Linked DNA regions of Homo sapiens. The protein of the gene in region 3 interacts with the protein of the main gene of each other region in a biochemical or structural test. Each region holds a gene or a part of one and is shown on either strand. Other genes may lie near its edges. The genes, in order: HNF4A, NR2F1, ISL1 and PECR.

Region 1 (7,026 bases), on a different chromosome or scaffold from region 3:
AAATCTTACTTTAGTTATAACTTATTGTTTTAGTCTACTTATAGGTCTAGTAAATTTTAAGAATTTCATTTTCTCCAATATTTTACTTTGAAAAATTTCAAACTTTAAAGTTTGAAAGACTAGTATAGTGAGCACTGATGTATCCCTTCGCCTAAATTCACCAACTGGTTGCATTCTGTCACATTTGCTTTATTGCTATCTCTGTATCTATCTATGCACTTTTTTATTGAAACATTTTATGTAAAAAATTGTAAAGGCCAGGTGCAGTAGCTCACACCTGTAATCCCGGCATTTTGGGAGGCTGATGCAGGAAGATTGAGGACAGGAGTAGGAAACCAGCCTGTGCAACACAGCAAGACCTGTCACTACAAAAAAATAAAAATAAAAAATTAGCTGGGCATGGTGGCATGCACCTGTGGTCCCAGCTACTTGGGAGGCTTAGATGGAAGGATTGCTTGAGCTTGGGAGGTTGAGGCTGCAGTGAACCATGATTGTGGCTCACTGTAGCCCACATGACAGAGCAAGACCCTGTTTCAAAAACAACAACAAAACAAAAACAAACCAAAAAAAAAAGATACTTTTTTAAATTGTATATTTACACTTGTTATACATATTTAACGTGTGTGTGTGGAGGGACGTGTGAGCATGACCCTACTGCACAGACGATCAACTGTGTACCAACTAATTCACGCTCCCCTTTACAAACTTTACAGCTAGTCCCGCCCCGCTAGGGACCACATCTTCCAGACCCCCTTGCATTTGGCAAGGGCCATGTGACTAGTTCTCACCAATGGAATGTGAGTAGAAGTGAAAGTGTCTTTCTGGGCTAGGGTGACCTTAGGGGTCCCTGGATGACTATGCCACAGAGGTCAATAAACTTCTAACTTAAAGTCTGCATTTGCTTGTTACATAAGCTATATTGTCTGAACTAATATAATCCCAATAAATTGAAGGACCGGCTGGGCACGGTGGCTCACACCTGTAACCCCAGCACTTTGGGAGGTCGGGGCAGGTGGATCACGAGGTCAGGAGTTCAAGACCAGCCTGGCCAAGATGGTGAAAGTCCGTCTCTAGTAAAAATACAAAAAGTAGCTGGCCGCGGTGGTGGGCACCTGTAATCCCAGCTACTCAGGAAGCTGAGGCAGAGAATTGCTTGAACCCAGGAGGCGGAGGTTGCAGTGAGCCAAGATCGTGCCGCTGCACTCCAGCCTGGGTGACAGAGCAAGACTCCATCTAGAAAAAAAAAATAAAAAAAAAATTGCATGACCTATTCCTGGGTTAAGATTGCAGTTTGAAACACACTGGTGTGGTCTTCTGATTTTCCAAATATTTTTGAACTGTGGAGACCCTCCATTAAATATTTCATTTAAAAGTCAAAACAGAGTGCCGGGTGCAGTGGCATGAGCAGGTAATCCCAGGGGCTGGGAGGCTGAGGCGGGAGGATTGCTTGAGCCCAGGAGTTTGAGGCTAGCCTGGGCAACATAGCGAGACCCCTGTCTCTAAAATAAAATAAAAAGAAATATACAAAAGTCAAAAAGAAGTGTCTCTGATGGAGCCAGAGGTTGAAGGGTGGGGAGAGGCTAAGCCCTAGTCCATTTGAACACGTCCCTACCCACATTACCCTCAAAGGGAACCCTGCAGCATCTTTCCTGACTCTTAGGACCCAGGGAATACTGTGTGACAATGGCTGAGCCAGATGGTTGTCATACCTCCATTTCTCAAAAGAGGAAATGGAGGCTGGGTGCTGTGGCTTACACCTGTAATCCCAGCACTTTGGGAGGCCGAGGTGGGAGGATCACAAGAGGCCAGGAGTCCAGCCTAGCCAACATGGTGAAACCCATCTCTACCAAGACTACAAAAATTTGTCAGGTGTGGTGGCACACACGTGCAATCCCAGCTACTTGGGAGGCTGAGGCATGAGAATTGCTTGAACCCAGGAGGTGGAGGTTACAGTGAGCAGAGATAGAGCCACTGGGTGACATTGAGACTCTGTCTCAAAAAAAAAAAAAAAAAAAAAAGAGTAGATGGAGAAACAGCAGGAGAAGGACTTGAGTGAGGTCACAAACAGCTACCCAGGGCCAGGGCCAGAGCCATCTCCCAGGTCTCTGATGAGGATAGGTCTGTCCCCTCCCTTTCTATGCCTCTCATCTGCCTCCTCCTCTGTGAAGGAGCCACACAGGCCCCCATCTATGAACCAGCACCCCCAAGAGGAGACCCTGGGCATCCCAGGGCCCCAGAAGGCTTGCAACAAAGCCTTGTCCTTAGTCTCCAGCCAGAGACAGTTGCATCCTGGGACCAGTTATCTATTCCTTACTCATCTCTGTTGTTTCTACAACAGCCAAAATGATGCTAACACCTAGTAAGCATCCAGTCCTTTGCATATAGTAGATGCACACACTATAGGTATAATAATAATAATCGTTCAAATTCACATAGCACTTTCTATGTGCTAGACACTCAGCACTTTACAAATATTGACTTTATGTCTCACAACAACCCTGTGAAGTAAATGGTATTATCATCAACCCCATTTGACAGATGAGGAAACTGAGGCAAAAAAGATTGGGTCGGCCGGGCGCAGTGGCTCAGGCCTGTAATCCCAGCACTTTGGGAGGCCGAGGCGGGCAGATCACTTGAGGTCAGGAGTTCAAAACTAGCCTGGCGAACATGGTGAAACCCCATCTCTACTAAAAATAAAAAAAAATTAGCCAGGCATGGTGGCAGGCGCTTGTAACCCCAGCTACAATCCCAGCTACTCAGGAGGCTGAGGCAGGAGAATTGTTTGAACCCAGGAGGCAGAGGTTGCAGTGAGCCAGGATCATACCATTGCACTCCAGCCTGGGCAGCAGAGCAAGACTCCGTCTCAAAAAAAAAAAAAAAAGAGAATTGAGTCATTCACTCAAGGTCACACAGCTAGTAGGTGGTAGAAGGTGGTAAACTCCTTGGATGCTATTATGACATAATAGCTGAAAGAATGAAGATTTGGTGTCAGACTAGATTTTAATCACCTATTTGCAAGGCGATGCAGGGAAACGTGACTTAACAACTCTGAATCTCAATTTCTTTGTTTATAAAATGGAGATAATATTTCCTACTTGGATGGGTTATTGCAAGGCTTAAAAGGGAGAAAACATATCAAATAGCCAACATCTTGCCCATTACATAAAAGGGGCTTAAATGAAAACAAATTCCTTTCGTTATCATTGACCCATCCTTATGCTACAGGCATATGAGTCAGGAAAAATGGAAGGCACAATTCCTTCACTTAAGCATCTCAGCATGCTTTTTTTTTTTTTTTTTTTTTTTAAGACAAGTTTCCCTCTGTTGCCCAGGTTGGAGTGCAGTGGTACAACCTCGGCTCACTGCAACCTCCACCACCTGCGTTCAAGTGATTCTCCTGCCTCAGCCTCCCGAGTAGCTGGGATTACAGGCGCCTGGCACCACGTCCAGCTAATTTTTGTATGCTTAGTAGAGACAGGGTTTCACCATGTTGACTAGGCTGGTCTGGAACTCCTGACCTCAAGTGATCCACCCGCCTTAGCCTCCCAAAGTGCTGGGATTACAGGCGTGTAATCCACAATAAGCCACCATGCCCAGCCTCAGCATGCTTTTAGGAATAAGATTAATCAATCATGAAACAACCAGACAAGTCTCAAGATACTTTCAGTAAAGGATGGAATTAATTGCAGTCAAATATAAGTAAAATCAGAGCAGTGTGTGGCCAGGCTCCAGGCCTTTTCATATGCTGTTCCCTCAGCTGGGAACACTCTTCCCCACCGTCTCTTCTCCCGGCTGACTCCTGCTAAACCGAGGTTCCAGCTTAGATATCAGTCTACTCCTCCAAGGTCAAGAAGTCTGTGACCCCTTCCCCTTCTCCTAAGTCCCTCTGTATCCCACAGTGCCTTTGCTGTCCTTATCATGGCACTCTGTCTTTGGTTGCTGCTGGCTTGTCTGTCCTCCTGCCAAACTGAGCACAGTTTAAGATCTGAAGCAAAGTTGTTTTTTTTGTTGTTTTTTTTTGGTTTTGTTTTGTTTTGGTTTGGTTTTGAGACATAGTCTGACTCCTGTCGCCAGGCTAGAGTGCAGTGGCGTGATCTTGGCTCACTGCAACCTCTGCCTCTACCTGGTCTCTAACTCCTGACCTCAGGTGATCCACCCACCTTGGCCTCCCAAAGTGCTGGGATTACAGGCATGAGCCACCACGTGAAGCAAAGTTTTATCCTCCTGTGTTTCCCCAGTGCCTTACAAAATGTCTTAAATACCATAAGCCTCCAGTGGAAGATTGTTGAAGAAATGAACAAATGAACAATGAATTAATGAATACGGGAGGCTTCTGGGTTGAGGCAAGATGCACTCTGGATATTTAGTTCCTCTGTTTACTAAATGGGAGAAAGTAAGGCAATGGTTTCCATACCTCAACTGAACTGCATACCCTAAGTCACACAAGGAGCTCAAAAAATTACAGACTCTTGGAACTCACCCCAGGAGACTGATTCACTGGGTCTGGAGTGGAGCCCCAAAATTGTTTTAAAAAGTTTCCTATGTGCAACCAGGTTTGTGAATCATAGGGGCTGAAGACTGAATTGACGTAGGATGGGAAGGTGATGTGGGAGGGGAGATAGGGGAAGGGCTGGAGAGGGGCCATATTTTAAGAATGAAGGGTGGGAACAGCCATAGCCTGATATTGGACACGGTCCCATAGCCAGCCAGCATCTGGGGTCCTACTCGATTTTGGGCCTATCCACCCTTCACAAGGACACGGCATGTTTGTTATAGCTTCTATTACCTTTTCTCTTTCATTAGCTCATGGAATCTTCACAACAACCAAGGCTCATTTGATGGGTGAAGAAACTGAGGACCAGAGAAGTGAAGCAAAGCACCATCATCATAGAGCTTCAAGGGGCAGAGCCACATCACCAAACTGTCTCCGACAATGGCCTCTGATCTGTCCTCAAGCTGATGCTATTGGTCAAAGGGACTAGGCCTACATAGCTAGGAAAAATTAGGCTCACCTGGCACTTAAAAACAGATATACAGTATTGCCCTGATGGAAGATTGTTGACATCCCCTATCTCTTCACTTGTCCTGTTTAGAGCACTTGAAGATGCTGCTATTCCAGGCTACCTCAGCCCACCCCTTCTTATCCATCCATTCATCCATCTTTTCATCAACCCACTCATCACATCATTTGTCCATCCATCCTTCCCCTAACCACCTACCCATCTATCCAGCTACTTATTCATCCATTTATCACATGCACCTACATATCTTTCCATCCATCTACTTACCCATCCATGCATCATCCTCCACACCCAACCATCCACCCATAACATCTTTTTATTAATCCATCCACCCATCTATCCACCCAGCCATCTCCCCAGTTACTCATTCATTTGTCTCATCCATCCAGCTATTTCTCCCTCTATTCCATTCATGCATCCCTCCACCCATCTATCACATCCATTCATCACATCACATTCATTCATCAGTCCATTCACCTATCCACCCACCTAAACATACATTTATTCATCCATCCATCTTCCCATTCATTCATCCACTTAATTAATCTTCAATCAAGGTCTACATGGGATCAGGCCCTGTGGAAGGCTGGACTATAACAAAAAGAATGAGATAGATACAGACCTTTCCTTTAAGGAGATTCGAGGTACTTACGGAAATGAGCAACTACCAAAGAAGCAAAATAAATAACCAAGGGAAACTTGTTAAAGGGAAAATAAGGGTAGAAAAGTAATAAGGCCAGGAGTCAGGTTAGCACACAGATATGCATGTTTAGCATCTCATCCTCAGAGTTACTCAGGGTAGTACCAGATTGGCACTGAGCAAGATCCTGGCACTCAAAGCAGAACAACACAAGAGTCACAGTCTACTCTACTCCATTGTGGTAGACACTCCCCAGAACTACCTTGTTCTCCTATAACACAGTGGGGTTATATGTGCCCCAGGGTACATTTGGCTTTCTGGAGACATTTTTTCTTTGGCAAAACTGATGGGAAGAGATGTTACTGGCATCTGGGGAGTAAAGGCCAGGGATGCTGCTTAACATCCTACAGTGCACAGGACAGCCCCTCACCACAGAGAATCTTCCAGGCCAGAAAGTTAACAGTGCTGAGGCTGAGAAACTCATTTATACCAGAGCCTCAGTTCTGTTTGGAGCAGGAGTGTGCCACACCCCAAGAGAAAAATCACTGGTCTAGGTCCATCTTGGCTTTCCCATCTCTTTCCACTACATACTTGTCTTCCCAGCTTTCCTTGAACTAGGGGAGTCTGCCAGGAGGTTTCTGGGGAAGTTTTGCTTTTGGATAAAAGAAACAAGGGCACTGAGGAAAACCTCTTCTCCTCCTGCCTCCAGCTTCAGACACGTAAGTGCAGACATGACAGCTGAAGCTGGGACAGCCAGTTTGGGTTATAATGGGGCAAATACAAGGACCAAAGACAACGCAGTGAGGAGGGCAGAGAGGAAGGAAGGCAAGAGAGTGGGATCTGGCTGACATTGATGATCATCATTGTAGCGCTGTTTTAAGCCCATCATTTCACTCATCCAACAAATGCTTATTGAGCATTTCTTCTGTGCCAGTCACCATGTGAGACATAGTGAGACAAACAAGGCTGAACAAACTACCCAGGTCCCAGAACTCACGGAGTTTATAGTCTGGTGGGGCAGCCAGACACCACAATTCACACCAGCAACTATCTGATCAGAGCGATGACGAGAACCGCAAAGCCAAAACCAGTGTGCCGTGGAAGCACCGGAAGTCCAGGGAGGGCCAAGTCCACCCAGCATCACCACACCAAAGAGCAGCTCTTTAGAATCCTGCTAAAGCTCAAAAACATGAAACCACAACGAGGATTTCTTGCGTGCTTGCTCTGGACCCAGGACTGTTCTAAGCACTCATGGATCCTTCCATTTGATCCTCACAACAGCCATGTCTTCCTCTGCCTCTAACTGAGGCTCTGCTATGTGCCATGTCCCTGACCCACCAATGCACCTCTACTATAGTCATCTTA
Region 2 (7,026 bases), about 42 Mb from region 3:
AACCATGTTTGCTGCGCTTAACAACCTGTCCTCGGCCTGCAAGGGAGCATCTTTCTGGCCGTGCTCATTAACTTTTGCCCCATTTGCCTCTGATCTGGGGGTGTTCAGTACCCCTTAGGAAATATGCAGCCTGAAGGCAGTTCTTAAAGGATTCCTGGAGTCCCCTCTCAAACCCAAACCACCCCAACCAGAAACCTCCAGGAGAACCTAGATTGTGTAGTGAACAAACACATGGGAGGGGGTAAGGAATCATGGGCTGGCAGTGCCTGGAATCAGATGAAGCCCACGCTTTAGCAATATAGGATTTCAGATCCGTTATCTATGCAAGAAAGGACTCTGCAGCAAATCCTTGGTGAGGGTGTACACTTCTATCTATACCTTAGATCAAGTAATTGAAAATTGGTCACATCTCTGTAAGCTGTATAATAATCAGGAAGAATATGACTCAGTTACTCCAGGCTGCAGAAAGGCGACATCTTCAGCAATCAGACACAAAGCTAGGCTACAGGCAGCAGCTGCTGCTGCTTCAGAACTGGGGGGGTAGGGGGGGATGTGGGTGGTGGGGAGTTGAGGGGGGACTTGGGGGGAGATAAGCTTTTGGTGGCAGGACCAAGGGAGAAAAAGGCACCTCCGCACAATGACAGCACCTCAAAATCTGTGTGCTTAGTTCATGTCAACCAAGGCCCTTCTTGGTCCTCTAAAAGTATTTCAGGACAGCAGATTATATTATATCAACTAACTAGAGGCAAGCATAGGGAGGGAAAGATGGAATAAGAGGAATGGAGTAAAGGCATCCTCTCCTAGTTCAAATACCCACTTGTTTCTTATATTAATAATAAATATTAAAAAAAAACCAGTAAGATCACAGAGGAGCCCTTAGCCAGTCAGGAGGTTGACTAGAGATCAAAGGCAGAATTTGCTAATATATAGATCTGGGAAAAAATTGATGCATGGCAATGCCCCCAAAATGACATTGTATAATTTTGAATGGGCAAGTGTGACCCTAAGAAGACACAACAAATGATTCAAAGTGAAACCTGTGTCTGCTGAGTTTCTGAGCTTTATGACCTTATATTTCAAGAACTGGGATTTACAAAGCATTCTAACACCTTCATCTACAAGGCTATGGCCTCGAGCAAAAATACAAATAAAACTAGTGATAATTCAAGAACTTCTGAGGCAAGTCCCCTTTGACCTCAGATACAGACTAGGTTCCTCTCAGATGTCTAATTACTCCAGCCAGCCAGTTGGGTATATCCACACTGGTCTGATATGGGAAGCCAAATGAGACTTTATGGCTATTAGGGCCAGGGCAGCAAGAGCTCTGTGGGGCTTTGCTGCTTAGAGAGGGGACCGTGAGTTTGGCCCTGCTTGCTAACCTGGCCCTGATGAATGACCCTCACTCAGACCCAGACCCATAATTACATAGAGCTTGCTTTACATGCATTATCTGCCTGCATGCTTATGGATCATTCTCAGCCCTAGACAATGCAATGTGAAAAGGGCCCCTTGGTATCCCGGCAGATTTTTTTTTTTTAAGATCCATCTGGCATCCCCTCAGCTCAGTAAAATATCTATCTGACATTTATGATTAGGGTCCCTGGAGTACAAGGTCACTTCCCAACTCCCAAACAGGCCGCTCCAAGAGAGACAAGAAGCCCAGGAAAGGCCTGCCTGGGTCCTGTGCTGGTTGCTTCCATTTCTTCCCTCCTTTGGAGGTGAATGCCTGTAGCTGGGCCTGCCTGCCAGGTACCAGCCAGCTAGCTCTGTGGCTTCCCTCCGGCAGGAGCCCTGGTTCTGGCCTGGCTTCCCAGTCTGGAAATTCATTCACCCCTTTGCAACAGGATTCCCTCAACTGTGGACAGAAGGTATGAGCTCCCAGATCAACTAGGGGGTTGTGGTGACAAAGCTAGGTGACCAGGGGGTGTAATACAGTATATATTTATGCTCCATGAGTTATACCCCAGATAAGAAAATGAGGCAGAATGTGCAAAATCCATGTCACACTTTTTATACGGTAGTGTCAATGTGGGAACTCTCAATATTTCTTCTACAGTGTATGGAAAAGAAATTATGTAAATAAATAACCATTACTGCTCAGGCCCTCCTGGCCTAGCCTTTGTAGTGCAGAGAATGTATTTCATGTTGTGCATTCAGAAGAGTTTAGTGTTCAGGAAATATAGATGTAATCAGCTGCCATAACTAGAAATCAAAGTTATTATTGTGCTGAAAATGGATTTATTGTATTTATGTTAACTAGATGGCTCCTTTCAGAGAAAGTCTCATTTATTTGAAGGAATATTTAGGTGTATGAACTAATGAATTTTTTAAAAAGTAAGTTCAGGTCATGACCTAGTCCTTGGATGCAGTCCAGAATATTAAGGATTAAACATACCATCCGGAGGCCAAATGTGAAAACCACCACGGGGGACCCCCGTGCCAGCTTCAAATACTTAGCCAAAGCAAACCACATTGGACAATATGTCTAAAACTGTCTTTTCCATCATTCAAAGTTTGCTTAAAAGTTGGATGACTTTGAGAAGGCTTCCCATGAATTCCCTTCTGGCTAGCAATCAAAACAAGTTTAGTCAAAAGTGGAAATGTGTTGCATGGGAGGGGGGAGGTGAATTACTACTGACAGCTCTATTTCCATTTTCAGATATTCTGCTTGCAATTTTCCAACAAAATAATGTTATTGTTCATTTCTAGGCACTCTTTGCACCTTGAAGACTTGATTCAAGAAACTTCCTTGGAAAACTTTTTAAATGAACACTTTTCACAGGAATGTTTTAGTATGGAAAGTTAAAAGGAAAGCATGAATAATTCCACAGTGTTTCCCTGCAGCCTGCACAGTCCTCACCTCTCTCTGGGAAAGGGCATGAGATTAGCAAAGTCAAGGGGGTTCAAAGAACCTTAGGGGGTGTAAGGAAAAGAGAGGAGAGACCTTTCCTGAGAAAACGTCTGTCCAGTTCCAAGTCACATTTCTGCTTCAAGACACCTCGCTGGATGAGATTTTCAAACCCCAGCTTCCCTGACACTGGCTTGCTTCCTGATGAATTTGGCTAAAGAGCCTGGTAGTAGAGAGCCAGCCAGGCCCCAGGCCTGCCAGAGCTGAGGCAGCCTGGTTGCTGCTTCCCAGGCTCTTTGTCACTTTTGAAAAACACGTTTCCATCAAGAAGACTTATTAAGATAAAATGCATTCAAATACGGAGGAGGCTATTCCATAAATCTTCCATTTGTTTTAAGGTTTGCACTTTATCCTCTTGGAAAGAATAACTCCCTCTCTCACTAGCAGACCTGCATTTGCACTGAAAGTAAAAGGGGGGCAGTCCAAGTCCATTGCTCTGGCCACCCTGCATACAAATGAGATGCTCTTGTCTAAATAAATTATCTGCTGTTCAGATCGATATTAATACTACATTTGCTACATTACAATATTGTGCAAATTTAGGAGTCATTTTAATACAATGTAAATACAATTCTTCACACATGAAAGCCAAGAAATATTGATAGATTATACCATTGCTTACTGTTCAACAAGGCCTTATGAAAGGGATTTTGCTATCCCTGTTCAAGAATGGTTTTAATTTGGCCATTGGAAAGCCTGGTTCTAGGATAGATTTATTAGGATGGTTTATTTGTTCTCCGAATGGAGGAATTAAAAACAATACTGCCAATAATGGTGGTAAAACTGCAGCTAACCCTACTCACAGTGGGCAGGGCCCAAGACCCAGTCTAAGCAGCACTACTTGCCACCAGCCTCCTCTCTGGCTTTGTCTCTATTTCTCCCCATTACCTGCTGTCCTGGGTGTTTATATGTTTCCCTCTTACAGGTTACAATAATAAAAAGCGGGGATTGTTCTCGGAGGCTCAGACCAGAGCCCTTCAAAGGAAACGTTAATGCACTTTTCTGGAAGTTAATTTGAACCATCTATCATAAGAGAAATTGTTAACATGCATGTTACCACTGCCTACACATAATTTGATATTTTTTAAGGCACTCTTAAATTTCCAGTGTTCATGTGTTTTGCATAGCTTTGGAATTCATCTTCAGGCGGGGAATCCTCCCATACTTGCGGGTTCTACAGCATTGCTTTTGTTTTTTATCTTTCTTGTTTAGATCGAATCCGTTTTTTACGACCCTCAATAACCTCACCAACTGCAAACATGAATGGTTTCCGATAAGGGAAAATCAGGCAGCGATAAAGCGGGATTATTATGATTTATTTGTGCGTATTCTTCTCTTTCCACCTCTCTCTGTGTCTCTCTGTGTCGGGAAATTCATTCAAGGAGAGTGCCACACAGGGTAAGAAGCCACATTCCCACGTTCTCTTCCTTCCCTCGCCTCCCCCAGAAACGCTGAGCTCTGGCTCACACATAACACGCACCACACACAGACACACACACAGAGACACACACACACACACACACGCGCGCGCGCGCGCGCAGCCAGACGGATCCACAGCACCGCCCCCCCGCCTCAGACACACACCCTCGGCAGCCGCGGCCCCACGTAGGGGTCCGGGCGACTAGGCCCGGCCGCCCGCCGGCCGCACCCGCGCCGCCTCGGTTCCCGCACCGCCGCGCTCCCAAGATGGCAGCGGCGCGGCCAGCCGGTCACCGCGCGGGGGTCACAGACCCGGGCCAGGCTCAGTGTCCAGCGAGGGCCCGGCCCGCCCCGCACCGGCCGCGCGGGAGGCTCCGAAGGCCAGGCCCGGGCGGCGCGGGGCCTGCGCTCGCTGCCGGCGCGGCCTGCCCTCCCCGCGACCGCAGCCTCACCTGACGTGAACAGCACGATGGCTTTGAGGCAGCTGTACTCGGCTGAGTCGACGTGTAGCGCCTTGAGCTTCTCCACCTGCTCCTGGAAGATGCGGATGTGGTCCATGAAGGCCACGACGCGGTCGGCAGACATGGGCGAGGCATGCAGGCCGGCGGCGGCCAGCAACGGCGCCACGTGCAGCGGCATAGAGCACTGGGCCGCGTTGAGCACGAACAGCTCGCTCCAGGTGAGGCGTAGCAGGGACACCTGGTCGGTGATCTGCAGATCCGGGAAGAAGGGGATGTTGCGGGCCCACTCGACGGCGCTGAAGAGCAGGCGCGCGGCCAGCTCGCAGATGTTCTCGATGCCCATAATGTTGTTGGGCTGCATGCACTGGCTGCCGTAGCGCGACGTGGGGTAGGGCTCGGCGCGCAGCAGCAGCGAGATGTAGCCGGACAGGTAGCAGTGGCCGTTGAGGGGGTCCCCGTTGGTGAGTGCGTACTGGCCTGGATTGGGCTGGGTTGGAGGCATTCTTCCTCGCTGAACCGCTGACAAAAAGAAAGAGAGAAAAGAGGCAATGTGCATCCAGGGAGCTTGCGAACATTGCCGCGCCGCAGCGTACCCAACACAATGCAGAAGCTCTTCCCGCAGCCACACGCGCCCCGCGCATCTTCTCCGGCTCGCTCTCACAGTCCACACCGCTAGGAGATCTGGGGTGAGGCCCTCCAGCTCCACAGCTCAGTGTGTCCAGCCACTGCCTGAGCCCCTGGCCACGTCAGCCCCGCCGGAGCTAGGCCTGACTCCAGGGCCCCAACCCTGGCAAGGTCAAGAAAGTGTCATCCAACCCCTAAGCCACCACGGGGGAACACACAGATAAATGAAACCCCACTCACCCCTCCAGAATGGAAAAAAAAAATCAGGGTTAAAAAAAGGCGAAACCGGAGAAAGGTTGTGGTTCTAGGCAAATGCCTAGCGGCCTCCTCATTTGCAAGCAAGCAGCGTTTTGCTGATAAAATGTTTCCACATTCTCTTAAAATGCTATAGAATAATTCTTAAAATAGACACAAGTTACATATCCTACTAACCACTTACAACTTTTGAGTAGAGAACAAGTATCCTGCACCCCTCCCTTCTCCCCTCCTCCCCGTCGCCCCATACAAAGTTCTCACTATTAAAAGCAACAGAAAATTGAAAATTTTCAAGAAAAAAAGTTGAACTTACAGTAGCCAAACATTATTGAAAAAAGTAGGAAATATAATTAATGTCTGTCCTGCGCGGTGCCACTGCAACCTGCAGCCAGCTTTTGCCCAGTGAATGCACGAGCTTTCAACTGCAAAAACACTGGATTCATTAACCATCTGAATGCAAAACGTAAGCATGCTTTGAGTTCTTAAAGCTGACCAAAGTTTTTTTTTTTTTTTTTTTAAATGTGTATGTTTTACTTCAACAGTGCCAGCGTTTTAAATTGCCATATAAACAAAGACAACTTTAGGAAAAGTTAGGGCTACTGAACTCTTCCCCCAACAAATTAATATAGATATGTTCATGTACATGTAGCTATCTTATTTCAGGTTTTGTTCTATTTTCTTAAGTTTGCTTTGATTCTAATTTTAATGCAAGTTCCAGTGCAATTGAAGCTCTTGAAACATAATGCCTAGAATACTTTTTTCTAATTATAGTTTTGAACTTGGCAGTTATTTTTCAATTAAGTGAGAGTACAATTCAAAGTTTTTTTTTTTTCAGATGCCTACAAAATCTCCCTGGAGCTAGAAATGAAGTAGTCATATTTGTCTGCTCCTTGAGATCTGAAGGAATTCAATTTCTTTTCTTGTGGCATATAAAATATAATTTTAAAGTCAATTACAAGAAGGAGTAATCTGCATTCTGCAAAATTGACTGGTTCGCTAATTTGACTATAAGACATCTTTAATGATTGTCAAGAGATAAACTTTAACTGTAAACGGCTAAATATATTTATAAGAAAAGTACTGCATCTCTTGCCACATGAACATGAAGCATATCCAAATACAACATCAAAAGTTGTGTTTTTTTTTAAAAAAAACAAACCCATACAACACAGGGATTAAATGATGTGGAAGCTCATGCTAGCTGCAGTCTATGCATTACGGCCAAATCAGAAGGATCGGTAAATGCCGTTGTAAATTGTAATTTGTATGCAGTATTTAAGCAGAGGGTGGAGTTTGATGAAGAAATAAAACGAGTATCATGCTTTAAAAAAAATGACACAACTATGAAAGCACGGTTCA
Region 3 (7,026 bases):
CTGGAATAGTATTCATAAAAAGATTATAAACTCATCATATTGTATATGTAGAAATGTTTGTGTAGATAGATATGTAAAGATATTCACATAGATAACTGAATTTTAACAGGCTTAGAGAAAGCCTAGAGGAGAAAAACTTGGGAAGAAATCCTCTCACTTTCCCATCTTCCAAAAGATCTCTGTTTTAACTGAAACTGAATTCCCAACATTATGTTGCATTAAATTATTTAAGAACAAATGTGTTTCCCACTGTAAAATGGCATCACAACTCTACTATGCATGCTCGAAATAAAATTATCCTGCTGGCTACATGTTGCCCTGGGAGTAGGTGAGCTCTCAGTCTCTAGGCATCAAAGACTCTCTTCTTCAGTTGGAAAATCCGTAACAGGCTCAGATCCTTTGACAGGAGATTGAGAGGAGGCTCCACAGAACAAAGATTAACTCCTCAGCAGGCTCACAGCTTGGGCATTCTTCCTTGTTGGTCCTGCTGCCTCTTGGCCTTTCTCTCTCTCTCTCTTTAAATCAGGCTCTTCCTTCCAAAATGAGACCCATATATTATGACATCATCCCATTCTGACTCCTTCTTTTAACCCTAATATCTGACTCCTTCTTAAATATCTGACTCCTTCTTTTAACCCTAAACGCATTGTACTGCTGTTGTAAACCTTCTCTAACTATGCCCACTCCTGCCTCAGCTTCCCTTCCACTGCTCTCATCTGACACTAAAGTTTCAGAAAGTGCAAACATTTGGCTGCCCTGAAGCCTCCCCTTACCTTCCTCCTGTGATTCAGGATTCGCTCAAATAACTCAACAGATTAATGAGCTTAGAATAATTTTTTTTTCCTAGTTCTAGAGCCTACATTTCTTTCTACAGTAAATTTTTCCAATATGAGATTAAGGGACTTCTAGCCTCTGCACCCACTTAGCATTTGCAAACACAAGCCTGGGGCCAAGCCCTTTTAACCACTTGCCTCTGGCCAATTACCTAACTGTTGACATTGAGAAAGCAAATGCCCTCCAGGTAAATATGAGGGTAAAAAGCTAACCTCAACTAAAGCTTCATTTCCAAAAAAGGGAACAAGGTTTCAGGATAGATCTTTACATTTTATAAAACAAGATTCTATAAGGCTGATTACTCTTTAAGAAAAAAAAATCATCTATATAAATATAGCATATTACAAAGGACATATATTTATTGTTCTTATTTATCTTGACCCCTTAAGCCTTTTGTAGGCAAAAAGTGAATTAATTTTCTCCTCTCTGGATGTGGAAAACATGTTAAGGTTTTCACAGATTAAACACTTTACTTCTGATTGGTAGAGCTCATGTCCCTTTTGCTATACATGGTACACACTGTGTGTCTCTATGACATTTGAACTCATACACTTGAAAACATTTAAACGGTCCTACATTTTAGATTAAGACATTCCCAGCAAGGGATACTGTAACAAAAAGTATTCATCTATTTGAATAATCTTTATTAATATATTTGAAAATTGTACCCAGACACATGCCTGCTGTTTATTGATAACAACACTGATTGTGTATTATAGCATTGATTATATACTACAATCGCCTTGATTTGGGTCCTATATATCCCATTCTCTAGATGCTCAGGAAGGATAAACTTACTAATTGCTGATTGAAATGCCAAGACGATTTCCTGAAGTCCTTGACAACTCTAAAATTCTAAGATGTATGATTCTCCAACACTGTACATCTTCTGGCACATGCTACCTAGAGTTAGGTACCTTGAAATTAATCCTTCAAAGAAGGCCTGATTGATAGAAAATTCAACCTATATGGTCAAATTATGCAGTCTCATTAAAAAAAAAAAGATGCCAAGAGGTTCGTTTTCCCTGCATTTGTCTCCCTTCTCTTCATTACCCACCTCCTTGGTTTCTCCCCAACCCTGAGCCCAAGAAGGCACCCTCCCCACTGAATCTTTCAATGTGTGACAGTTAAACCAGAGTCTCCTGTTGGGAATTCAGCCTCTTCCATCTGGGAGCTGACACTTACCAGTTGCTGAAAAGCAGGCTGATCTATGTCACTCTGCAAGGCGAAGTCGCTCAGTACTTTCCAAGGTGGCTGGTAACTTTGTACTTCCACTGGGTTAGCCTGTAAGCCACCGTCGTGTCTCTCTGGACTGGCAGCCACCATGGGAGTTCCTGTCATCCCCTGGATATTCTGTGAATAGGCCCCCCAACCAATCCCAACATGTTAATGAGCAAATTCCCTCCCTCCGTTGTCTGCACAGGCTAAGCAAATATACCCTGGTATTATCTTATCTATATAGTGGTCTTTATTGACTCAGTTAATCCGCCGTACCTACGGATATTAGTTAGAATTCAATTTGTTTTATTGTTTTGTTTTTCTGCCTCTGTGGGCTGGACTATTAGGTCTGCATGGACCTTATTAAACCAAATTCTACTTTGATTTTCTTCTTCCCCCTTACCTTCACAGCTCAGCCCAATTCCTCCCCTCTGCCTTCTCAGACCATAGCTTCCCAGAACTAAAAAGCTGAGGTAAGCAGGGCTTCCCTTCAGCCTCTAGACAGGGTGGTTTTCTGAGCAGTTTCAGTTAGCTGCAGATTTTTTCCAAGCCGTTCTCCTCAAGGAAGAGCCAGCCCCCCACTCCATCCCCCCAAAGCATTTGGGTCTGGTTCCTATTGTGCTATTATGCACTAACCAACTCAGAAAGTGCCCTGGCCCAATCTTGGCCAGCCTGCCAAGTTTAATGACAGCAGATTTTATGGCATTTAAAAATAGGTCCAAAGCAGTAAAAAAAAAAAAAAAAAAAAAAAAAAAAAAAAAAAAAAGAAAAAGAAAGAAAAGAAAAAAAGGAAGAAAAGAAACTCTAGCTTAACTTCACCAGGAGGCCTGCAGAGTGGGTGCTTCCGTGGGACCAAGATAACAGTGGATACTGGTGCGAGGGGCCTGATGCCTCTGTGGAGGCCTGGGCTTCACCTGGAGCAGAGGGTGATCTGGGCATGCGGGTCACCTTGGGGGAACTCGCCAGCCTGAAGGCGCAGCGGCCGACCTTACTTAGAAGTGCGGTGCGCCCTGGGGGCTCACAGGGTGACCTGCCCACGGAACCCCTGGATGTAGGCAGGAATCCAAGGTATTATCCCTCCCTCTTCTTGTGTACGTGAGGAACTGACGATCTGAATGTTGGCAAAACCCGGGCCAAACCTCGTTGCCGCCTGCCCTCAGAGGGGAGGACGGCGTTTCTCCGGTTCACAGGTACAGGCGAGGTGGAAGGGCATGAGCCCACCCACGAGGTTGGGACCTGGATGCTGCTCCCCCGGCGCACGGAGCCTCCCAGCTTCCCCGCCCTCAGCTGGCGGCCGGCGCCGGGTAGCCTGTCCCCCGGGGCATGGGTAGGGGGGTAAGGATGAGGGGCAGCCCCGGCCAAACTCCTGCCCAGGAGCAGGATTGAAAACCGTGCGATCCTGCGTACCAGGAACGCACCTCGCACGCTGCGTCTCCTTCCCCCTCGCATTCCCTGCCCGGCCCCAGAGCCACTCACAGTTTTGTCATTGGGCTGCTGCTGCTGGAGTTGCTTCATCATGATGCTTCGCTTCTTGTCCTTGCACCGCTTGTTTTGAAACCAGACCCGGATCACACGGGGACTGAGGCCCGTCATCTCTACCAGTTGCTCCTTCATGAGCGCATCTGGCCGCGGGTTTGCGGCGTAGCAGGTCCGCAAGGTGTGCAGCTGCTTCTCGTTCAGCACAGTCCGCACGCGGGTGGTCTTCTCCGGCTGCTTGTGGACGTGGGGCCGCAGGGCTGGCTGCCTGGCGGAGATGGGCTCCGCTGCGGGGCAAGGAGCGCCGTGAGCGCTGGGCTGGAGGCTCGCTTGCCGGCCCGCCCGCGGTCGCGCGCTCGCTCGCTCGCTCGCTTGCCCGCCCGCCCGCCCGCTTACTTGCTCGCCCGCCCGAGATACTCAGGACAATGGCTAGGGTTTGCAGCCTCAGCACACAAAGCAGGGGGCGGCAGAGGTGGGGGCGAAGAGGGTGAAAGGGAGAATAAAATCTTCCTCTCTAATCTGCAGAGGTCTTTGCTGAGTAATCCCGGCCTGAAACGCAGCACTCGCCCCTCCTCGTGTCAACAAAGTGTTAGCCAAGGGAAGCAGGTCTCAAAGTCTGTCCCCCTGTTCACAGCAGGGGTGGCATTTTTCAGCACTGTTTCTCCTCCATTCTCACCTTTCCTTGTGCCCAGACTGGGCCCCAGTTACATTGATTACCACCCTCTCCAGGATCAGAATTTTCTCTTGGGCCAAGGCCACAGAGGGTACCAGGGAAAGGAACGCAGAGCACTTCAGTGACAGCCATAAATACTACACCAGCAGGGACTTCTGCAAGGGGAAGGTCGAGAACTCTGCCAGAACGCCTTGAACTTCAGTCCGAGAGGACAGTCATGTGAAGGGGCTGAAGAGATTCGCTATTTCTGCCATATCTCCAATCCCTGCTCTTAGTATTAAATCTAAGGTAATACATGGATGTTCCTGAGATGGGCTGATCCCAAGCAGTGGAAAACGGAAACTCTGTTGAGCTGCCTAGGCTCTAGATAAACGGTGGCTGGGAGATGTCCCCCGCCTCCCTCTCGGTATTTTAGCTTCCTCTGTGCTTCCCCACAAGCAGAGTGCAGGCTCCACTGAACAGGAGCACCACCCCAGCCGTGCCCCGGTGCAAACTAGTCACAAATCCCCCTGAACAGAATTCTTAGAGCTGCCAGAAGGCAGAAGGGTAAGGGAGGGCTATAGTTTCCTCACCTTCAGTGTTTAGTGGGAATTGATACTTTAAAACTGCAAAGGGGTAGATCTATTCATGGCAGGAAGTCAGGTTTGGAAACACTGTCCACCTTCTAACCCACTGCTTTGGTCCCGGCCAACCTTGCTGTGTTTCCACTCCTCTTCCTTGGGAATGAGTCCTCTTATCTACATGATACAAATCCTGCACCTTCTACAACCCCCTAGGGTCAGGCCAACACCTATGGGGTCAATTTAGAGCTACAACCATGGGCCTGAAGATGAAATTCTCACCAAATCATATAGAATGAATGATTTAAAGAAGCAGGCTCCCTTTAAAAGGCAATTACTGCAGATAAGCTTGTTGACAGTTTTATATTACAACTCTGTGCAATGGCCTGCAGTTTTTAAAACTGTATCTTTTCAGTCCTGTTCTCTCACAGAAAGATAAAAAAATTAAAAAAAAAATTTCGAGTGTGAAGCAACTCACAAGGAAAAAGGATTTGGGAGACTAAATGACTTCAGGCCACCTAAGCTTCCTTCATTGGGTTAAAGGATGAAGCTCCAGGGACCCGGGGCTCCGCCCCTTTAATTAGGCAGCAGGAGAATACCTGGCTGGGAGCTGAAGCCCGTTTTCAGCAAGCCAAGGTTTGGAGGCCAGAGCGAACTGGAAGTAATGTTTGGGCGTGTGTATACACGTGTACACAAGTGGTGTACATTTATGTGTAACCATATAGAGACACACAGACGGTGTAGGTGTGCTCGGGGAATCAAGGGAGACAGTGAGTGCATTGAACCTTGCTGCAAAGGAGCAGAGCACAGCGCAAATTGCATACAGAACACTTCATTTAACTGCAGGCAAACACTACGACCACCCCTGTAGCTACCATAGTTGTTGTGGCCGCTGGCACACAGGCTGGCTTAACCTGGCGCCTGCCTACCCGAGCCGGGCAGAGGAGTACCTGCCATTTGCAGTGGCCGCGCTGGATGCAGGGGACTGAGCGGGTCGCCAGCGCCTAGACTGGCCCTCTCCACCACATCGTGGTCTGCTCGGCAGAAGAGACCGTCCTCCCGAAGCGCAAATTCGTCCCCAGGGATGAGCTGGCGGCTGCAGGCCACACAGCGGAAACACTCGATGTGATACACCTTGGAGCGGGCACGCATCACGAAGTCGTTCTTGCTGAAGCCGATGCTGCACTTGGCGCATTTGATCCCGTACAACCTGTGCGGGGGAGGGGGGAGCGGAGGCGGCCCAGAGCGGGGAGAGAAGTACAGGAAGAGGGGGTCACTTCAGGCCGGCACTTCCCTGGCCCAAGATCCCGGGCAAGACGCCCCAAGTAAACAGCATTTCCAAACAGAAGTTGGAAACAGAAGGACAGAAATGAAACCCTGCTCTCTCCTTCCCTGTCTCTCTTCCTTCCCCCATCTCTCTTTTCCCCTCCCTCCCTCCTCCCTTTCTTTTACTCCCGTTTCCTTTCCGATGAACCTCTGTCTTAGTTGGTAACTCTTAGCTCAAAACACCTAGCTTGTACCACAGAAAATGTATTGATGGGTTCCAAACTCGGGCTGCTGCTCTAGCAATCAATCCCAGTGTTGATCTTGCAGATCTTGGCAGGAAGGAATCCAGAAAGACTCTGGTGGCCACCGACACCAACACTTTCACTTCCCTATCCCACAATTTCTGCTGCTAGAAATGTCTAAAACTGCAACAAAAAGTCCTCCTTCCAAGAAAAAAGGAGGTAGGAGAAGGGGATTGTCACCCCACTCGGTTTGCAAACACTCACAAATAAACAAGCAGAATAACAAAATGAAACCTCTGAGAGTTTCCACATCTCCTTTTGCACAAGTACTTTCCAGTCTTTCTCCAACTAAAGATTTTCTTCAGGCAGCAATGTTAACAGAAAATTTCCTCTCCATTCTTCCTTGTATTATTATTTTTTTAAAAAAATCTGCGTCTGTTCCCTCAATCTTTTTCAAGTTGCTGAATCATCTACCTCATTTCAATTTTCTTGAAAACCATGACCAGAATGAAAAAAATGCAAAGACCCGCTTCTAAGGTCTTTCTCACTCCTGGCCTTTCCTTACCAAGGGACAATCTTTATAGGTTCCATCTAGGCTGCACTTCCCTGGCCCCTTCTCCATCTTTCAGGAATAACAGAAGCTGGGGCATTCCTACGAACAGAAAGAATGGAAGAGAGAGGAAAAGATCCACATAACAGGAGGAGGCATCCTGCTTCTCCAAGGAGAGATGTGGAAATCTAACTGTCCAGTCTGTTC
Region 4 (7,026 bases), on a different chromosome or scaffold from region 3:
CTATTTATCCCTACTTATCTCTATTTGTCCCTGCAGGCCTCTTTAGGTCCCTTCAGGTCTCTGTTTGTCCCTGAAAGTCCCGTTTGGGTGCCACTTTGACAAAAATTTTTGAAGGTCATGAAATAATTGTACTTTTTCCCATTGACTATTTTTGCTTTGAATGGTTTCAGCTTGCATGATCATTGTTACAATGCCACAATGCCATGCAAAAGCAAAGACTACCTATGAACTGTTAAGTGGTTCTTTTACATATATATTTTAAAGATGAGGTCTCACTGTGTTGCCCAGGCTGGATTGCAGTGGTTTTTCAGTGTTAAATTCTATGTGAGGTGATACAGTTATAGGCTGTTTTCACCCTAATACAGCATTTCACTGTATCATAATTACCTGTTAATTTAACAGTCTGCTCCACTCACTGTCATCCCCTGGGAGGTAGGGACCCTGTAATTGCTCTATTTGTTAGGCTAACACACAGTCCAGCATATACAGGTGGAATAAATAAAGTTCACAAAGGCACAGAGTACAAAGGCTCTCCATTTGGCCTGAACTATTTTAGTTGTATAAGATAAGCTAGCTACTGCATATGAAAATAAGGCACTTTATTTTATTTCTTATCTTTATAGATGTAGGGGGGACAAGTGTAGTTTTGTTACATGGGGCTTTTAGTGTATCCATCACCTGAATAGTGGCCACTGTACCCAACAGGTAATTTTTCAACCCTCACTCCCCTGCTTCTACCCTCCCACCTTTTAGAGTCTCCAATGTCTGTTATTCTACTCTGTATGTCCATGTGTACCCACTCTTTAGCTCCCACTTATAAGTGAGAACATGCACCATTTGACCTTGTTTCTGAATTATTTTAGTTAGGATAAAGGCCTCCAGTTCTATCCATGTTCCTGCAAAAGACAAGATTTCATTCTTTTTCATGGCTGAGTAGTATTCCATGGTATATATAACATATTTTCTTTATCCAATCATCCACTGATGGACACTTAGGTTGATTCTTAACTTGCTACTATGAATAGTGCTGTGATAAACATACTAGAGCAGGTGTCTTCTTCATATAGTGATTTATTTTCCTTTGTAAACACCCAGTAGTGGGTTTGCTGAATTGAATGGCAATTCTATTTTTAATTCTTTGAGAAATCTCCATACTGTTTTCCATAGAGCTTGTACAAAATAAGACAATTTTAAAAACTATGTTTAAAGTTTAGGTTATAATTTAGTAAACTAAAAATGGTAACAACTTTTGGAAATTCTCGTGTGCAATCTGAGGGTTTTATAAAGCAAAAATTGGAAAGATTCACCATAAGTTCCTTGTAAGCCTTGCCTAACTTTAAAATGGAATTTAATTTATCAAAATATATAATGTGCAACAAAAACATACGTTATACTGTTAGGAGAAGCTTACTCCTTTCTCCTTTTGTTTCCAGGAGGGCCCTCTTCTTCCAGCAGGAAAAATAACTGAAACACAGTCACACACCCCATAACAATGTTTTGGTCAATGATAGACCACATGTATGGCAGTGGCCTCATAAGATTAAAGTGGAAGTTAAACATTCTTATCATCCAGTGGTGCTGTAGCCACTGTAATGTCATAGCTGCAATTACTTTATTTTTTTATAAATTTAGTTTAGCCTGTGTGTACAGTGTTTATAAATTCTACAATAGTAAACAATAATGTCTTAGGCCTTCACATTCACTTATCACTCCCTCACTAACTCACCCAGAGCAACTTCCAGTCCCGTAAGCTCCTGTGTCCTATACAGTGCTCTATACAGGTGTACCATTTTTTATATTTTATACCATATTTTTACTATATCTTTTATTTTTATTATATCTTTTGTATGTTTTTATATAATTTTATAATAAAAATACCATATTTTTATTATATCTTTTGTATGTTTAGATATGTTTAGACCACAGATATTTACCTTTGTGTTACTATTTCCTGCAGCCTTCAGCATAGTAACCTCCCGTACAGGTTTGGAGCCTAGAAGCAATAGGCTATTGACCATATAAACCATGTATATAGTAGGCTATACCATCTAGGTTTGCCTACCACTCTATGATGTTCACACTATGATGAAATCACTTAAGGATGTATTTCTCAGAAGATTTCCCTGTGTTAAGTGACACATGACTGTATATACTTCTAGACTAATCCAACACTCAGTTAGGTTTCTGTCACTTAGGAGAAATAGCTGAGCTTATCAGTGAGATGGAAAGGAGAGAAATAAGCACCCCAGGACAAGCCACCACTTCCTCCACCCACTTCTTTCTTTGATATTTCTGCCTTCAACATACACATTTTTTGCTCTAGTTCCCAGAGTAGGGCATAGGCTCTATAGGGCAGGGATGAAAAACTTTACCTAGGCTGGGTGCAGTGGCTCATGCCTGTAATCCCAACACTTTGGGAGGCCAAGGCCGGTGGATCGCTTGTATTCAGGACTTCAAGACCAGCCTGGGCATCATGGTGAAACCCCACCTCTACTAAAAATACAAAAAAATTAGCTGAGCATGGAGGCACACGCCTGTAATCCCAGCTACTCAGGAGACTAAGCCACGAGAATTGCTTGAACCTGGGGGCAGAGGTTGCAGTGAGGCAAGATTGTGCCTGGGTGACAGAGTGAGACTGTGTCAAGAAAGAAAGAAAAAGAAAGAAAAGAAAGAAAAGAAAGAAAGAGAGAGAGAAAGAAAGAAAAAAAGGAAGGAAGGAAGGAAGGAAGGAAGGAAGGAAGGAAGGAAGGAAGAAAGGAAGGAAGGAAGGAAGAGAGAGAGAGAGAAAACAAGAACACCAAGGTGATTAATGCCTAACTTTGTCCAAGACCTCGAGTAAAAAATATGTTGAGAATATAAATAGGATGATTCACATGGATTATCTAAATAGAAGTTTACTAAATTATAACTAGTTACTATCTGAAACCTCAAGACTTCAGGACAGTTGTCTACTACAAGTAAAGATGCACTGAAATACAACTTTACAAGTCCATTTACTTTCACTGCTAGAACTTTCCACTATAGACAAACTTGAACTAGGGTGCAAACATATTACAGGGAAAAACAATGCAATGCTGGGTAAAATAAAAACCTAAATGGCCATTCAGGAAATGGTTAAATAAGTTATTACAGACCCACACAATGGAATACTATGCAGCTTTAAAATGAATGAGATATGACTACAATACTACCATTGAAAAACACAAGATATGGGCCAGGCATGGTGACTCATGCTTGTAATCCCAGCAATTTGGGAGGCTAAGGTTGGAGAGTCGCTTGTGGTGAGTTCAAGACCATCCTGGATGAGACCTTGTCTCTAAAAAAATTTTTTTATTGCCAAACATTGTGGCACATGCCTATAGTTTAGATACTTGGGAGGTTGAGGCAGGAGAATCATTTCAGACAGGAGTTCGAGGCTGCAGTGAGCTATGATGACACTACTGTACTCTAGCCTGGGTGACAGAGCAAGATCCTGTCTCTAAAAAACAAAACAAAACAAAGAAAAAACAAGATATTTAAGTAGGAAAAAAAACCATTACAGAGCAGTAAGAATACTGTGATCCCAATTTTGTAGAAAACAAAATATATATACGTGTGTATACATGTGCACATTAAATTTGTAGAAAATCACCAGGAAGGGAATTTAGAAAAAGGGCAGAATGGGTAAAGCTCATTTTTTTCTTTTATACACTTCTATACTGTTTTAATTTATTGCAAACCTCTTATGCTACCTTATAATAAACTAGAAAAATATTATATATAATCCTTGCCTTTCATGCTAAATCATTTCAATAGACTTTATTTTTGTTTATATGTAGCTAGAGAGATGCAGAAAGCTCAACTGACCTGCTTAGAATAGGTATAGAAGTAGCTTGTGGATAAGGAGTTCTTTCAACATCAGAGGCTTGTAGCCCCAGTATGCTGCGTTCCTGCTTAGGCTGATACTGATCCCTTTCCATCTTCAACTCAGAATACTACATTTATTCAGCACCTTCTTGGTCCCTGGTGTTGGTAACAGGCTAGTTAGACTAGACTAGAGCAAGAAAAAATGTTGTCTTGGGTCATAATTTCCACCGGCATTTCCTAATTGCATTTTATCTACTATACCTAATTTATGTTCTACTGTAGTAACAGAAAGTGAATGATTAACTTGAAGATAAAAAAACATCTGATATGAATTCAACTTGACGATGCTAGGTTTTCCTTGATGAAATCAGGTTTCTCTCTGCCTAACAGCACCTGTCAAAGGTATAAAGGAGATCTAATTCTGCCTACAATATCCTGCTTTTGTGAGCTAAAGCTTTCTGTGTCCTCTCAGAAAAAGGAAAAGTCAAAATCCTGTGGAAGTGAAAGACATTGTTATATAAACCCAAATTGAGCAAAAAAGAAAATGTTAGCCAATTTTTTTCTTCTCTTTTCTTTTGAGATGGAATCTCACTCTGTCACCCAGGCCAGATTGCAGTGGCGTGATCTCGGCTCACTGCAACCTCCGCCTTCAGAGTTCAAGCAATTCTCATGTGTCAGCCTCCCAAGTAGCTGGGACTACAAGCATGTGCCATGCCACCACATGTGCCACAATGTTTGGAAACAGAGTCAAGCAAAGATTTTCATGCAAGGATGTAGTCTTGAGAAGTGAAAAAATGGAAATTACCTAAAAATTCAATATGAGGGAAATAGTTAAATCAATAACAATGAAATATACATGCTTCCATTTAAATATCTTGCTATTGTTCCTGGTGCAGTGGCTCACGCCTGTAATTCCAGCACTTTGGGAGGCCGAGGCCGGCAGATAACTTGAGGTCAGGAGTTCGAGACCAGCCTGGCCAACATAGTAAAACTCCATCTCTACTAAAAACACAAAAATTAGCCAGGCATGGTGGCACACACCTGTAGTCCCAGCTACGTGGCAGGCTGAGGCACAAGAATCACTTGAACCTGGGAGGCAGAGGTTGCAGTGAGCTGCTGTCAAGCCACTGCACTCCAGCCTGGGCAACAAAGCAAGATTCCATCTCAATAAATAAATAAATATCTTGCTATTGAAGACTTACTTGGAGAAATGCATACCATATTATTGGGAAAAATAGAATTCTAAACCTAACAGCATTCCAATTTTACTTTTTTTTTTTTTTTTGAGATGGAGTTTCGCTCTTGTTGCCCAGGCTGGAGTGCAATGGCACCATCTCAGCTCACTGCAACCTCTGCCTCCCGGGTTCAGCGATTCTCCTGCCTCAGCCTCCGAGTAATTGGGATTACACGCACGCACCACCTCGCCTGGCTAATTTTGTATTTTTAGTAGAGATGGGGTTTCTATATGTTGGTCAGGCTGATCTCGAACTCCCAACCTCAGGTGGCCGCCCACCTCGGCCTCCCAAAGTGCTGGGATTACAGGCATGAGCCACCGCGCCTGGCCCAATTTTACTTTTAATAAAAAATATTTGCCGGGGTGCCGAGGCTCACGCCTGTAATCCCAGCACTTTGGGAGGCCAAGGCAGGCGGAGCACAAGGTCAAGAGATCGAGACCATCCTGGCTAACACGGTGAAACCCCCGTCTCTACTAAAAATACAAAAACTTAGCCGGGTGTGGTGGTGGGTGCCTGTAGTCCCAGCTACTAGGGAGGCTGAGGCAGGAGAATGGCTTGAACCCGGGAGGCGGAGCTTGCAGTGAGCCAAGATCGCGCCACCGCACTCCAGCCTGGGTGACAGAGCAAGACCTCCATCTCAAAAAAAAATACATGCAGGGCCGGGTGCAGTGGCTCACGCCTGTAATCCCAGCACTTTGGGAGGCTGAGGCGGGCAGAGCACAAGGTCAAGAGTTCGAGACTAGCCTGGGCAAACATGGTGAAACCTTGTCTCTACTAAGAATACAAAAATTAGCCAGGCATGGTGGCATGTGCCTGTAATCCCAGCTACTCAGGAGGCTGAGGCAGAAGAATCGCTTGAACCTGGGAGGCAGAGGTTGCAGTGAGCCAAGATCGTGCCACTGTACTCCAGCCTGGGCTACAGAGCAAGACTCCGTCTCAAAAAAAAAAAAAAAAAAAATATGGATTATACATGCAAAAATGGACTGGAAGGAAGTTTGTAAGATTTTTAGCCATTTTTCTGAAAATAATGTTAATTATGAGTAATTAAAATTGTCTTCGTCTTTTAAATATTTTTTAATGAACATCTAAATTATCTTTGGTTACCATCTGGCATAGTATGAAGTAAAAAAGAAAACACCTGTATTTTTCGTTAAAAAAAAAAAAAAGCAAAAATATCATCATTTTAAAAACCATGCCTCAAAGTTCATGCCAAAAAGACATAGTTCACACCAAAAAACCAAAACCAAAAACAAAAAACAGTGGCCTTCTGACTAGAAAGAAAACTGGAGGCTAGGCGCGGGGCCTCCATGCCTGTAATCCTAGCACTTAGGGAGGCTGAGGCGGGCAGATCACTGGAGGTCCGAGTTCAAGACCAGCCTGGCCAACATGCCAAAACCCCATCTCTAGTAAAAATATGACAATGTCGTGGAAATAGCCATTGATTCTGGCATAAAAAAATAAAGAGGAAAAAGTAATTATAAAAATGATTTTTATGGCCAGGCCCGGTGGCTCACAGCACTTTGGGAGGTCAAGGGGGATGGATCATAAGGTCAGGAGTTCAAGACCAGCCTGGCCAACGTGGTAAAACCCCGTCTCTATTAAAAATACTGCTCAGGAGGCTGAGGCAGAGAATTGCTTGAACCTGGGAGGTGGAGGTTGCAGTGAGCCGAGATTGCGCCACTGTACTCCAGCCTGGGCGACAGAGCGAAACTCCATCTCAAAAAAAAAAAAAAAGAAAAAGATTTTTAATATTCTTTCACTGAAGGAAATCCATTTCCAATACAACAAAATAATTGTGTATATATATTTTTAAGTATATGATGTCTTTTTCTCAAAAGACACGCCACCACTTTCATCAGAATCTCAGACAGATTCATGTCTTCCAAAAGATTACAAGACCAATGTCCTAATGTTTTAGTTTGTGGTAAGAAAAATATAGTCTATC

Evidence for each region.
Region 1: the proteins of ISL1 (region 3) and HNF4A form a complex in vitro, tested with the Homo sapiens proteins (one study listed by BioGRID).
Region 2: the proteins of ISL1 (region 3) and NR2F1 form a complex in vitro, tested with the Homo sapiens proteins (one study listed by BioGRID).
Region 4: the proteins of ISL1 (region 3) and PECR form a complex in vitro, tested with the Homo sapiens proteins (one study listed by BioGRID).

The regions. Positions count from the first base shown.
Region 1 is NC_000020.11:44,358,699-44,365,724, reverse strand, and holds part of HNF4A (hepatocyte nuclear factor 4-alpha), read right to left. Parts: exon of another isoform or gene 4,804-7,026; intron 1-4,803. UniProt on the Homo sapiens protein: Transcriptional regulator which controls the expression of hepatic genes during the transition of endodermal cells to hepatic progenitor cells, facilitating the recruitment of RNA pol II to the promoters of target genes. Activates the transcription of CYP2C38.
Region 2 is NC_000005.10:93,586,198-93,593,223, reverse strand, and holds part of NR2F1 (COUP transcription factor 1), read right to left. Parts: intron 6,126-7,026; exon of another isoform or gene 5,994-6,125; coding exon of another isoform or gene 5,981-5,993; intron 5,308-5,980; coding exon 4,780-5,307; intron 1-4,779. UniProt on the Homo sapiens protein: Coup (chicken ovalbumin upstream promoter) transcription factor binds to the ovalbumin promoter and, in conjunction with another protein (S300-II) stimulates initiation of transcription. Binds to both direct repeats and palindromes of the 5'-AGGTCA-3' motif.
Region 3 is NC_000005.10:51,386,435-51,393,460, reverse strand, and holds part of ISL1 (insulin gene enhancer protein ISL-1), read right to left. Parts: exon of another isoform or gene 6,861-7,026; coding exon of another isoform or gene 6,835-6,860; intron 5,972-6,834; coding exon 5,712-5,971; intron 3,816-5,711; coding exon 3,529-3,815; intron 2,188-3,528; coding exon 2,020-2,187; intron 1-2,019. UniProt on the Homo sapiens protein: DNA-binding transcriptional activator. Recognizes and binds to the consensus octamer binding site 5'-ATAATTAA-3' in promoter of target genes. Plays a fundamental role in the gene regulatory network essential for retinal ganglion cell (RGC) differentiation.
Region 4 is NC_000002.12:216,071,788-216,078,813, forward strand, and holds part of PECR (peroxisomal trans-2-enoyl-CoA reductase), read right to left. Parts: intron 1-7,026. UniProt on the Homo sapiens protein: Participates in chain elongation of fatty acids. Catalyzes the reduction of trans-2-enoyl-CoAs of varying chain lengths from 6:1 to 16:1, having maximum activity with 10:1 CoA. Has no 2,4-dienoyl-CoA reductase activity.